Regions from separate parts of the Homo sapiens genome. Here region 2 is linked to region 1. The links come from fine-mapping of genetic effects on gene expression. Tissue or cell type: whole blood. Region 1 holds a variant in brackets; the other region holds the start of a gene. All regions are shown on one strand. Distances are between the middles of the regions.

What was found. PIP is the estimated chance that this variant, and not a neighbour inherited with it, causes the effect.
Region 2: it holds the start of CCS, and the variant in region 1 is fine-mapped to the expression of CCS in whole blood (TOPMed, PIP above 0.99).

What each region holds. Positions count from the first base shown.
Region 1 is chr11:66,637,199-66,639,698 of GRCh38, reverse strand. The region is part of intron 1 of RBM14-RBM4 (RBM14-RBM4 readthrough); the gene reads right to left. It overlaps RBM4 (RNA binding motif protein 4), which reads right to left and starts at 996. Exons shown (of 4, transcript NM_002896.4): 1 at 947-996. RefSeq lists enhancers at 120-831, 698-1,067, 832-1,545. The variant C/T (reference allele first, on the strand shown) is at 1,542.
Region 2 is chr11:66,592,007-66,594,506 of GRCh38, reverse strand. It overlaps CCS (copper chaperone for superoxide dismutase), which reads right to left and starts at 1,322. Exons shown (of 8, transcript NM_005125.2): 1 at 1,207-1,322; 2 at 793-865. The coding sequence starts at 1,245. It overlaps CCDC87 (coiled-coil domain containing 87), which reads left to right and starts at 1,444. Exons shown (of 1, transcript NM_018219.3): 1 at 1,444-2,500. The coding sequence starts at 1,492. RefSeq lists enhancers at 1,458-1,547, 1,578-1,687, 1,858-1,917, 1,480-2,068, 2,069-2,500.

The DNA of each region.
Region 1 (2,500 bases):
TGGGAGAGAAAAACAAGACATCTGACAAAAGACCTCAGGCCCACATCCGTTCACAAAAGACAACGACTTTCACTCTAATGTATATTTCCAGTTTTCTCTCTCACACGCCTGCACACACACCTCCACACAATAATCAAATGGAAGTGGGAGTGAACTAAGGCCTGCTATAGTAGCCGCCATGAACCTGTAAGAATAAGAAGACGTCTGCAATAGGGAGGTCCTTAGTAGACAAAGGGTTTGGTAAGAACCGATACCTTCCAACAGAAATGGGCATGAAAGACAGCATATGAAGAAATGGGGGTACTAGGCTTTTCTATCCACTAGGAGGACAACAGAAAACAAAAGTCTACTAGGCTTGCTGACTGCCTGCCTGAAATTATCAACAGGCTTTTCCTCACGTAGGAACCAAAGCAGCCATCATTTCCGGGAAAATGGGCCTTGTAATAGCTACATTTGAGTTTCCTTTGGAAGTAATGAACGCGCGACTCGGATCAGACAGCGAGGAGTGGGAGATAAAGGAAATACTGGAGTGGTGAACGCCTCTCTCGGGGCACCGTCCTAGCTCCTGCCGAACACTGAAATGCGCGGCCGCGGAAAAGAGCTTCAGATTCATTAACCAGACGATGTCTCACGGCCCGAGAAATTCCCGAAACGAGAATGTAACTGTCAGATATAAGGGAAAGGGGGTTATCCCAGTGGAAATCTCGAGGCTCCAAGAGCAGCCATGTCGGGCGCGGGACAGGGTGGGCGAAAAAAAGCAAGGTATTCTCAGGGGGCGGTGGGGGAAGGGCTGCTCCCGGCTTACCGCGCAATGCCGAGGACCGAGGTCGGCTCTCAGTGACGGGTGTGGAGACTGCGGACCTACCAGGACACCCCCGAAGCCCAAGGGAGTGAGAGAAGATTTAACACAGTACAAGAAAGGCAGTGGAAAGGCTCGGAGTCTCACCCGCACAGAAACCAGCAGGGCCTCCTCCTCGCGGCGCGGACGCTTCTGACAAAACGCTAAAATGGCGGCGGCCGCAGCAGTGCTCTGAGTAGAAGGGGGAGGTGAGCCTACAACCGGATTGGCCACTCAAGAAAGTAAAAGGCCGGCGTTCCCTCAGATCCTCTTCCTGATTGGTTACCACGGACGCCAATTACCTAAGAGGCCGGCAAGAGGTGGAAACGTCTGTAACCTCGGAGCTTTTATGCGAAAGCCAATGGGCACCAACCTCGCGAAGCCGAACTCGCTGATTGGGCAAGAGATCAGCGTGAGGGCGGACCTACAAACGTGGGCTTCGCCGGCGGGGTGCGGCCCGCCATTAGGCGGAGCGAGCTAGAGCCCCGGGGTAGCAGTCTTTAGCTTCATGGCGCCAACTTCGTTAAGCTTCCACATTTCGCCACCTCCACGTGCACAGCCAGACAGTATTCCGCGCTCCATTTTGCCGTTCACTCTAGGTGTCTCCCTCTAACCTCCCAAGCACCACCCCCCCTCGCGGCCAGGACGCTGTGGAAATAGCTTATGCAGGCACATGCCAGGGAAGAAAAACAACGAAGACCCC[C/T]CCCAACCCACCACCCACCACTTCAGGAAACCAACCTTCTCCTTGGGCCAGCAGTCCACACTGTAGCCTTGAGAGTCCCGGAGCTCCCCCAAAATCAAACCTCTCACAGGTGGTGAAAGGACCTCTGTAATGGCCTTCCAGAAGTAGGCCCGGCAGGAGGCTGCACTGTCCAGGAGACGCTGAGGACAAGTTCCCTCTGGGAACCAGCCTCCCAGGGTCCGCGATGAAGAAACCTTTCTGAGACCATGGAGATTTAAAGTATACCCCGACCCCACCCTGAGAAAAAACTGGAGCAGCAAAGGTTTTTTTGTTTTATTTTATTGGGCGCCATCAGCCAGAGCTGTTTTAATCCCCTAGAACCGACTTTAGAGGACAGAGCTTAGTCACAACCAGCTGTAAACAAAATACAAAGTAACATTCTCCAGAGGGTCCAGCTGCTGCCTCGTTTTCTCTCATCCTTAGGCTGCTTCATATTCATTAAGCAAGCAACTTTAGTCAAGACCCTTTGCGAAGCAGCTTTTGAAAAGGGTTAAAAGGTGGAGTGCAGGGACTGGATGGAAGAACTTATAACACGAACAAAACAGGCTAAAAGCAGTGCAGAGTTTATGAGGAAAGGGATCATCAGGAGTGAAGATGACACAAGTACCACACACCACCATCCAAAGCAGCTTCTTCACCACCACCCCCGCCCCAAAAAGAGAACGGTTTCATAAAGAGAAAGGTGAAGTCAGAGTTTGGGGGGGAAAAAAAAGAGTGGGTTTTAAAACCCAACACGAGGGCCAGGTGCGGTGGCCCACGCCTGTAATCCCAGCACTTTGGGAGGCCGAGGCGGGCGGATCACCTGAGGTCAGGAGTTCAAGACCAGCCTAGCCAACATGGTGAACGCCATCTCCACTAAAAATACAAAAATTAGCCCAATGTGGTGGCAGGCCCCTGTAATCCCAGCTACTCAGGAGGCT
Region 2 (2,500 bases), 45 kb after region 1:
ACTGAGCCTGGCCTGGATAAACACTTAACAGAATCAAAGGAAGCCAGTTCCCAGAGCCATGCTGGTGGCTCTACCTTTCCAGATCTTTCTCATTGTGCCAGGTCACCTCCAGACCAGCTGGCCTTTTATTTATTATTATTATTTTTTTGAGACGGAGTCTCACTCTGTTGCCCAGGCTAGAGTGCAGTGGCGCGATCTCGGCTAACTGCAAGCTCCGCCTCCCGGGTTCACGCCATTCTCCTGCCTCTGCCTCCCAAGTAGCTGGGACTACAGGCGCCCACCACCACGCCCGGCTAATTTTTTGTATTTTTTAGTAGAGACAGGATTTAACTGTGTTAGCCAGGATGGTCTCGATCTCCTGACCTGGTGATCCACCCACCTCGGCCTCCCAAAGTGCTGGGATTACAGGCATGAGCCACCACACCCAGTGGTATAGAAAGCTACCCAGGATGGTATAGGGCCTGAGCTGCTGTTTGCTTTGTCAAGATTATGTTGTTTCCCAAGCAAAAACTGCCTGTTTTCCCAGGAACTCCCTCAGCCTAGCTCCTCAGTCTCTGGGGCACCTGAGGTTCAGGACAACAAGACAGGCAGTTAGAATCTGTCAGGGCAAGCTGGACAGCTGTACTCTAGGCTCTGCCTCCAGGTCTGTGTGTAACTCTGAGAACATGCCTTTCACTCTCTGGGGTTCACTTTCTGCATCTGTAAAATGGGAGTAGGGTTCGCCTAATAGATTCGCCTGGTCCCTCCCAGAGGCTTCTGGACTGTCTGCAGAAAAGTTTACCCTGTTCTTACCTGCCACCCCTTGCAGGGATTTGCGCACCGCGTCCACACAGCTCTGACAGGTCATCTGCACCGCGAACTCCAACTGCAAGGGCGGCAGGGACCAACCGATGATCGCTGGGGAAGTGCCTTGGTATGACTTTGTTTCACCACCTACCCTATGACCACCGCAAGGGTCTGGGAACAAGCCCCACTTAACCCCTCTTCAAGCACCTTCTTCATGATCTCTCATGACCATTCCAGGACCATGGGAGTCACCCCCCAACACTCACGCAGGGCCCCTGCTACCCTCGCACCCTAGTTTCATCCCATGGCCCCAGGCCCCAACCCAAGTGCCCACTCCTTCTCCTCTTCCCAAGGTAACGATCATCCCAGGGGCCGAGGCTCTCTGCCCGGCGAGGCTCCACACGAAGCCTCGACCCTCACCGTGCAGAGGGTCCCCTGGTTCCCCGAATCCGAAGCCATTCTGGACCCAGTCACCACCCCGAGACGCAGAACTCCTCCGGCGCAGGAGCACCAACCAGCGCGGCGTCGCGGGGACTGAGCCTCTAAAGCCACCCTTAACTCCTCCTCCTAGTGCGTGCGCACGCAAGGCCCTGCTTCGTCAGCCACCGGGTGGCGGCCGCGCAGGCGCACTCGGGCCGTCGGGCTCCTGGTTGCCTTAGTAACCCCTCGGCTTTCTGTTCCTGGACGGTGGCGGCCGCCGGCTCTATGATGGAGCCCCCGAAGCCCGAGCCTGAGCTCCAGCGGTTTTACCACCGGCTGCTGCGTCCGCTGTCGCTCTTCCCCACTAGGACGACGTCCCCAGAGCCTCAGAAGCGCCCCCCGCAGGAGGGCCGGATTCTGCAGTCCTTCCCTCTGGCGAAGCTGACGGTGGCGTCGCTGTGCAGCCAGGTGGCCAAGCTGCTGGCCGGCAGCGGGATAGCAGCGGGAGTGCCTCCTGAGGCCCGACTACGTCTCATCAAGGTCATCCTGGACGAGCTGAAGTGCAGCTGGCGGGAGCCGCCCGCCGAACTTAGTCTGAGCCACAAAAACAACCAGAAGCTGCGGAAGCGGCTCGAGGCCTACGTGCTGCTGAGCAGCGAGCAGCTCTTCTTGCGCTACCTGCACCTGCTGGTGACCATGTCGACTCCCAGGGGGGTCTTCACTGAATCAGCCACCCTCACCCGGTTGGCCGCCAGCCTCGCCAGGGACTGCACACTCTTCCTTACTAGTCCCAACGTCTACCGTGGCCTGCTTGCCGACTTCCAGGCCCTGCTGAGGGCAGAGCAGGCCTCTGGGGATGTGGACAAGCTGCACCCTGTCTGCCCCGCTGGGACGTTCAAGCTGTGCCCTATCCCCTGGCCTCACAGCACTGGCTTCGCCCAAGTGCAGTGCTCTAACCTCAACCTGAACTACCTCATCCAACTCAGCCGTCCACCAGAGTTTCTCAATGAGCCAGGAAGGATGGATCCAGTGAAGGAATTGAAGTCCATCCCTCGGTTGAAGAGGAAAAAGCCTTTCCACTGGCTGCCCTCCATAGGAAAGAAGAGAGAAATCGACATCAGTTCCTCACAGATGGTGTCGCTGCCCAGCTATCCTGTGGCCCCCACCAGCAGGGCTTCCCCCTCGCCTTTCTGCCCTGAGCTCCGGAGAGGCCAATCCATGCCCTCCCTGCGTGAGGGCTGGAGGCTGGCAGATGAGTTGGGCCTTCCTCCACTCCCATCTCGCCCCTTAACCC